2 separate regions of the Homo sapiens genome follow, and region 2 is linked to region 1. The links come from fine-mapping of genetic effects on gene expression. A gene starts in region 1. The other region holds a variant in brackets. All regions are shown on one strand. Distances are between the middles of the regions.

Region 1 (4,402 bases):
TATTTCTAAAAATATTTAACTTTTATCTTAAGTTGTTTCTATATGTTTAAGTTTCTTCCAAATATAATATCTAATTTAAGCTTGCATATTCATTCAATATTTTAAGCACATTTTATTAACGATTATTTACTGAAAACATTTGATATACCAGACATGGTTATAAGTGCTTTCTACATATTTCGTTTAGTCTTCATACTTTAGTAAGGTAGGTACTAAAATCTCCGGTTTACAGAACAGGAAACTAAGGCTCAGAGAACTTAATTAAGGTCATACAGAAGAGGCAGGAGACAAACATCTGTAGAAGATCACACACTACATCTAAAAAGTCAGAAATAGATGAGCCATTGTAACGAACAAAAACAAATAAAAGTAAACAGTAATCGCTCTGAGAGACCATCCTTCATGTCTTTTGTGTTCCTACATGTCTTGCTGGATATGCCAAAAATGTAAGGCCTTGACCACTCCTTACCCAGGTCATTTGTTAAGGCTGGATTTATAGGAAACAACCTTGAGAGATAAGGTAATGCCTTCTTCTGAAATAAAGAGAAAGCTTTCTGTAAAAGCAGTGGATTCTCCAATGTCAGAATTCTTCTGTATTTTCAGCCTCCTGTAATTGTTCCTTGCATTTAATGAGTACTCAGGAAATGTCTGATGTGAGAAGTCAAGGACAAAGAGTAGGGTAGTAAAAGAATAGGTACCAGGAATGAATTACCCGACTATTATATCTGTGACCCTTGATTATTCTAAAAAATAAAACAATATCAAACACATTTAATAGAAATAACAGCTAACATTTCTTAGTGTCTTCTATGTTCCCAGTAAGTTCTTAATGCTTTTTGTTGCTTTACCCCTTGCAACAGCACTTTGAGGTAGGTAATATTGTTGTCTTTGTTCTACAAATGATGAAACTGGGGCCTAGAGGCATTAAGTAGTAGTTTGCCCAATGTGTCATAGCTAGTAAGTGATGGAAGCAGGCTCTGAAAGCTGTCTCTCTGGCTCTGACACACGTACTCTCAAACACCTCCTTAGGAAGTTACTGCTACCTTTTGGTAATAAATGGGAGCTTTTATAGGATCACTGGCTTCCAGTTTTCACCAAGAAATGTAGAATGAAAAATAATACCATTTGCCCTAGCAATCCCATTACTGGGTATATACCCAAAGAAACAGAAATTGTTCTACCATAAAAACACATGTACATGCGTGTTCATTGATATTCATGATAAAGACATGGATTCAACCTAAATGCCCATCAACGGACTGGATAAAGAAAATGTGGTACACATATACCATGGAATACTATGCAGCCACAGAAGAATGAGATCATGTCCTCTCAGGGACATGAATGCAGCTGGAGGCCATTATCCTTAGCAAACTAATGCAGGAACAGAAAACCAAATACTGCATGTTCTTAGTTGTAAGTGGGAGCTAAATAATGAGAACAAATGGACACAAAGAAGGAACAACAGACACTGGGGCCTACTTGAGGAGGAGAGTGGGAGGAGGGAGAAGATCAGAAAAAATAACTATTGGGTACTACACTTAGTACCTGGGTGACGAAATAAGTTATATACCAAACCCCTGCGACATGAGCTTACCTGCACTTGTACCCCTGAACCTAAAATAAAAGTTAAGGGAAAAAAAAATATTTGCAAAGAAAAGGGCCTTGAATTTGCTTCTGATACATACGCGATATAACCTGAGGAAGATCCTCTCAGCAATAAGACTATACATGATGGGGCAAGTGTCAACTGCATACATTTGTCAGGACCAAATTTGTAGCTCATAATTTTTATGCAACTGTTTTTACCTTGGCGAGAATCAATGCTACAAATACTATTCCAAGTCTTAGTATATGGAACCAAACTCAAAACAGATGTCCAGCTAAATGCATTAAAGATCACAAGAAAGGAATTGACAAAGCTGAACACCATAGTTCTTCATTGCTAAGCATCTGAGGAGCGTCTGGTAGCTCCCCTGGGTCAGTCTTTCTATTATGATTTCTAGAACTTTATTTTTTCATTTTTTAAAAAATTCCAGGTGTTGAGAACTCACCTTTTCTAGTAGTTTTCCCTGGGAACACTTGGGGATCTACAAACATCTGAAATTGGAGGATGCTAATGGGCAAGAATCAAGAGAAAGGTAATTCAGAGACGACAACGAAGTGGGAAAGAAATTACAGGGTCAAAGCGAAAGAAAACCAAGCTGCTTGGGTAGGAAGGTGCAATGCAAGCCAATTGTTTACTGTATCTTGTCCGCTCCCAGAGCTGCGCCCGAGCTCTCGCGTTAACTAGGCAACATCGTTGCCACGGTAACTGGGAGGCGCGGGAGGGCGACAGCTCCCTGGACTCCCGGTAACCCTTACGTGCCCGGGGCTGGTCCGTGGGGCGGGGTGAGAGATGCCGGAATCTCGCGAGAGCTCCCGGGGGCCGTTGGGTAGCGTCTTCGCTGTTGCCCTTAGGGACGGCTGTGGGCCTGCTGGGGGTGGGGGCCCGAAGCGCCAGAGATGGCTGCTCAGCGAGGGATGCCCAGCTCCGCCGTGAGGGTCCTGGAAGAGGCGTTGGGCATGGGTTTGACGGCAGCCGGGGACGCGAGGGACACGGCGGACGCGGTGGCGGCTGAGGGCGCCTACTACCTGGAACGTATCCTTCCCGTGGAGGCGCGGCCCGCTGCGCTGGCGGGTAATGGGTGTTGGGACGAAGGCGAGGGCCTCCCACTGGCGGCGCCTTTTGAGCCTTGGGGCCACTCCGGAGGAGCCTCTGTTGGACTTCAAGGTGCTGTTTTTGCCACCACAGTCTTCCTGAGAGCCACTCACTGAATTTCTCGCCCTTAGTAGCCCAGGGTGTCCTGTACCTGTTAGAAGAGTTGGGAGACCTTCCAAGGCCTCATACTTAGTAACCACTCAGTACATTTTGGATGGAGGGTTGCTTTTTATGTTAAGACAGCACAACAAATTGCTTCAACCCTCCTTTCAAATAATGGGTTTCCTAAATAAGCCCTCAATCTTTCAGAAAGCCGTCCCAATAAATTCAACGGAGGAACGTTAGGAGACTAGGGAAAGACCTCTGCCATTGGACTTTAAGGAGCTGAAGCTCAGAATACCCAACCCACGATCCTGTTCGATGGTCCAGTTAATGCTTAAATGCTTAGTTTTGATAGCATTATCTTCCTGAGTAGTTCCAAGTTTGACTACTTAATAATAAATACTAATAGTATAGTTGCTTTTTTTTCTTGAGCAAATAAATAATGATCTGGTGAGCTACACAGCTCAGAGATATTAGGAATAAAGCAGATGGTGATTAGCGATTTTTATCGGAAGTACCAGAAAAATTGAATAACAATGTGTGGATAATTAGGTCCACTATTTCTTGTGTAAGGCTTTAGAACTTCTTTCCTCTAGTTATATAGATTAATTCCTACTAGGGAGACGGGGAGGGTTCATGAGAAAAAGACATGTAACTCCTTTATTCAGGGAGGTAAGAAAGAGATGATTATCTGTTCAGTTCTTAAAGATACCAAGGAAACTCCAAAATCTGCCAAATCTTATTTGTTTGTCCAACTGTAATCCTCTCCAGGTTTAATTCAAGATTTCAGAAATCCAGCAATGATTCATTTCGTGAGCTTTGACAAGCCGATTAACCTGTCCTGACTCAGGCTCAGTACACATCCACACTACAGAGAGCTTTGAAGAATTTAGCTGAAAGATTAAAGAAAATATGTAGTATTTTATTGGGTGCAAAAACGACTTTTACAGGAATAGAAATTTGAATCGCTTGAAATGAATTTGAAAGAAATATATGGGTGCTTTAGTGTCATAAATGAGGTTTTATACTGTTTTCGTAGATGTAACAGGCAGTCTTTTCCAGTGATATTCCTCTTTAACAACGATTTTCATAATTCTTCCTAAGCTTATCTATATCCAGTGCCCTTGCTACTGAATGGTAACCAGGCATCTTGTAATTTTGTTTGCATTAAAATTATTTCCGTGAACACATAGTTTAATTGTTAACATGAGATTGACACAATGAGGTAACTTTTTGCAAACATCTTTGTGAAATAAATGGTAGGAGTCTAACATAACACAACTTTCAGCAATGAAAATCAGGTTTACTTAATGTGCAGGGAGATCACTGAGTCACACCTGCCAAGATGTAGCAGTTTGCAAACCTGTCTTACAAAGACTTTTTCAAATAATCACACTTATTTGAACTTTAACACATATAAGCAACTGTAACTTTTTAGGATTTTACTAACCGTTGTGTGAATTATCCAACCCATTTGCTTTTCTTCTTTCTTTGGTTGACTGACTGCTATTTTGTATTTTAACCAAATGGTAGTCAGGGGATACACAGTTAAACATTTAACCAGTTTATTTTGCTATATTCCATGCTGAGGGAAGAGGT
Region 2 (4,402 bases), 930 kb after region 1:
AATTGATCATTACTAAGAATTTTTCTTATCATGGCCAGCAAATTGTCAAGTAAGCTTGCTCCATCCCAGTTTTCCCTGACCAGAAAATGGCACTATTATTCCCCCAATATGATCAGAGTAAAATCATCTTTCCTTATACCCTACATTCCACCCATCAGCAAGTCCTGCTGGTTTTCCTTTGCCACAACCCCCAAAACTTCCCACTTCTCCTGGCCTCCAATTTACCACTCTAGTTTCGGGCTACTGTGACACTTGGTGCCTATTTGGTCTTCCACTTCATTCTTATCTTGCTAAAGCCGTTGTCCAGAGAGCAAAATATACTTGTAAAATATAAACCAAATTATGTATGTAATTTCTTAGCTTAAAATTCTCCAGTGAATTCACATTACATTTATTATAGAACAATATTTACTCTCTGTGGCCTGACAAGACATACTTGGTTTACCCCTCTCTAAATTCCTCCATTTCTCCCTCACTCTCTTGTTTCTGACTGTCTTGCTGTTCCTCAGACATGGCAAGCTTTCCCTGATTTTGTCTTTTATCTACCAGAACTGCTCATCACCCAGACCTACAAGTGATCCCTTCACTTATTTCTTTCAAGTTTTACTCAAGTATCACCGCCTCAGAGGTAACTTCCTTGACCTCCCTATGATATTAATTCCTCCTTCTCACCTCCCCGACCACCCACTCCCTGCATCCATCAATCTCTTTGCTTTCTTCCTTTTTGGTTCACAGAACTTGGCACTACCTGATACACGGGTTACATGTCCATTGTTTGACTCTTGTGAAGTGAAGGCTTCACAAGGGCTTCCACCGTGATTGTGCCCTGTATCTGTACCTAGTTGAGGACCACTATTTATATGCTAAGTTAGACCCCCATTGATTGGATAAAGTCAGGCTCCAGAAGGGCAGACTAAAGCCACCAAGCAAGGAACAAGAACTGGAAGAGCTTTTGTTTCCAGAATCACCCCAGCTAGCTCTACTCTTTCTATTTTTCATCCCTTCGATAGATGAACCAAAAAAGTCTTTCTTTTCTCTTCAGTTAGTTTGAATACAATTTCTGTCACTTGAGATTGAAAGATCCCTAACTAATAGCCAGTTGAAGATTCAGTTTCAGGACCTGAGGAATTTTAGAGGGAGAACTGTGAAATGCCACATCTCTGTGCACAGCACACTAGAACATGTAAGTCCACACAGCACAGACTCCTCACCTGCCCGTTAACCTCTGAAGGCACGGTGGGCCACCATTATTGTCAATATAATCAAAGAACTTTTTCCTCCCCTATTGAGTACTTTGTTCTTTGTGTGTTGTGTATTCCCGTCATCTGCTGCCTGAACAACTCAGACTCAGCTGCTTCTTATCCTTCTTGTCCTTTCCCTTACCCTTCCAGATTTGCAAATCATTCCAGAGTTGTGAAGGGAATTCTAATCTTTTAAAATTGATTTTCCCAGTTTCTCACACACACAGGGGAAGCAAATAATGCATGCACCATATTATGTATTAATACCTTTATTCCTAATCCAATCTTAAAGCAGACTGATTATCCACTTATCCCCACCCCTGAATTTTTTTATTCAAATGTTCATACAAAGCTGTCACTTATTCCTGAATGCCTGAATTTTAAGCAAAGCTGATGACTTCACAGAACTCCATACACATTGAGCACACTGAAACCACCTGTGCAACAACGCAAGGCAGTGTGAACAGGCAGGGAGCTGTGTCAAGGCCAGGGTCAGAGACCAGCTGCTAGAATTCTTCCCTGAACCCAAGGGAGCAAGCATAGGTTTTGTGGCAATCTTCTCAACTATAGCATTATTGTTGACATTTTGAGTTTAATATAATGTACAGGAGCTGTTCTGTGCATTGTGTGATGTTTAGCAGCATTCCTGGCCTCTACCAGCTACCCAGTGTGGCAACCAAATATTCCTCCAGATTTTGGAAACTGTCCCCTGGAATGTATGTGCTCAGAGAAGGATTGAGCCCAATTAAGAATCACATGTATTCAAAAAAAGAACTTGTGTGATAACTCAAAAAATCAATTCTATCTACTGGGTATACTACTATCTCCTCAAAATAGTCAGTAAGAGGTCCTGGGTAGGTGAAGGTGCTACCTCTGCTTTACAGTTGGACCATAAAGGTCATGGCCTTTATGAACCAATAAGTATCCATTAGAAGTAAAATTGTAGATGAGTGTGATCTGTTTATAAATTTGAAATTTTAAGGGATCTTATTTTCTTCATGGCCCCTTCATTTAAGGTGAAACTCTATTTATAGTGCCTTTTGTGATAGAACTCGGGCTCTCTTCTCAAACCTACATTCCCACTATTCCATCGCATGTGTCCTATACCCAGCCATATCAATATTTTTTTATTCTATGGAAACAATTTGCTTTCTTATATCTCCATGTCATTCATACATACTGTTCCCTCTGCCTAAAATATCCTTCCCAACCTTCCTTTTTACTTTTTTTTTTTTTGAGACAGAGTCACCCACGCTGGAATGCAGTGGCACAATCTGGCTCACTGCAACCTCCACCTCCCAGGTTCAAGTGATCCTTTTGCCTCAGCCTCCCAAGTAGCTGGGATTACAGGCATGTACCACCATGCCCGGCTAATTTTTGTATTTTTAACAGAGACAGGATTTCACCATGTTGG[C/T]CAGGCTGGTCTCAAACTCCTGACTTCAGGTGATCTGCCTCCCTTGGCCTCCCAATATGCCCAGTCTTCCATATTTTCTTTGATATGTTACTTCTTATGATACTGAAAACTTCCCTTAATTCCTGTTCCTTCCTGGCATTCTCTATTCCAGGCCTGTAGGTTTGTCTCCTCTCTGATTCACCTATTCCAATGCCTATTCTTATAAATATCAGTTGAGTTTCTTACCCATCTCCAAATGATGTACTTGAGAGCCACATCATTTTATTTAGGCAGATCTAAATTTTGTGGGTACAGAAGTTTATGCAATCTGGGATGCCCTCTTTATAAAAAAAGAATATAATATTATTAATATAAAATTAGGTATATTTATTTAGAACTGGGAAAGAAATCACAACAAATGCCTGGAAATTTAAAGACTCAAACTCCCTTGTCAATTTACCAGAAATGCTTACATAGAAATATTTCCTAATAGGAACCTGGCTTTTTCTACCATCTAGAATGCTCTGCAGCTGTCAGTATCTCACAGCAACCTGTGCAGTTGAGGGTCACCAGAGCCTAAGGTTCATTACATTTATGGCAAATCTGCCTTTAAAAAACGTATCTCTGCATCTCCAAGGCCCAGTACAATGGTTATATGGTAGAAGGTACTTCATAAATGTTAGTGATGACAATATTAAATTTTATTTAAAGGTTAAGAAATTCCATCACTCTTTTGTTCCAGAAAAAGACATTGCCAGAAACCACCTTTCTCAATATGACTTAGACAAGACTCATAGATGACCCCCTTGTTCACATAAGGCAAGGCCAGACACAGACCCTCCAAATTCCCATTCTTTGCCTCAGAAATGACTAATGGAACTGCTTGTCCCAACTGATCAGCTGGAACAAAATGACTGTTAACCAACCTTCCTCAAGATCCCTGACCTCTGGCTCACCTCCAGGTGAGCCAGCATTCAGCTCCTCCCAAGAATAGAATAGACTGGCCTCACGGAAGATATTCTCCAACCTACCAGCCTATCAGGCCACCTTTGATTCCATTTCCCCACACTGCTTCTTTCTTGCTTTGTTTACTCCTCCCTTCAGAAGCTTGTAGACCTTATGGTCACCTCCTTCTCCCCAGTGCAACATTATCTTTCCCCAGCCTTCTAGGAAGTCTCTTGCCACAGACTTTCAAATAAAGTCTCTCCTTACTAAGTCTGAACTTGCTTTTTATGTGACAGTGAAATTACTGAAGAAAATAAGTGATGAATGACTGAGTGTGAACTCTTGTCAAGCAACAAGTGTTCTTTGTAACTCTTTCCCGTACTGTTGCAATGATAATGCTATTGCTTTCCTACTGAGCCTATGTGGTCTCTCTTTTGACCTCTGTTCCTTCTGCCAGTTGCAATACACTCCTCTGTCAACCATTACTATAAGCTTAATCTGTCAATATTGTCAAACAGTTCTGACCTCTACCTTGATTTTGGCTTAAATCCCACCTTTGTTATAATTCAGTCTAGATCCTAATCCATTCAGACTTTTTCCTGCCTTAGTTCCAAGAAAACATGACTCTGTTTCTAAATCAAAATAGAGTATGTGAGTTAGCTTTGAAAAGGCCTGATAGATACCCATTGCAAAAAGTTAGTGAAAGGCCATTCTGGTTGCAAACAATTGCATGTAAAGTCTTGGAGGCAGGAATTTGAAATTCATGCCTCAGGACAATAAAATTAGCCAAGTTTTATTTTAAATTGGTAGAATAATGACAGAA

What was found. PIP is the estimated chance that this variant, and not a neighbour inherited with it, causes the effect.
Region 2: its variant is the best candidate, but not a certain one, in a credible set for the expression of SPAG16 in testis (GTEx, PIP 0.50).

Annotation. Positions count from the first base shown.
Region 1 is chr2:213,281,979-213,286,380 of GRCh38, forward strand. It overlaps SPAG16 (sperm associated antigen 16), which reads left to right and starts at 2,486. Exons shown (of 16, transcript NM_024532.5): 1 at 2,486-2,641. The coding sequence starts at 2,506. SPAG16-DT (SPAG16 divergent transcript) reads right to left here and starts at 2,231. Exons shown (of 3, transcript NR_161186.1): 1 at 2,055-2,231. RefSeq lists enhancers at 2,519-2,648, 2,689-2,738, 2,809-2,888.
Region 2 is chr2:214,211,722-214,216,123 of GRCh38, forward strand. All of the region lies in intron 15 of SPAG16 (sperm associated antigen 16), which reads left to right. Among named protein-coding and RNA genes, the nearest start is that of VWC2L, 200 kb to the right of the region's middle. The variant C/T (reference allele first, on the strand shown) is at 2,656.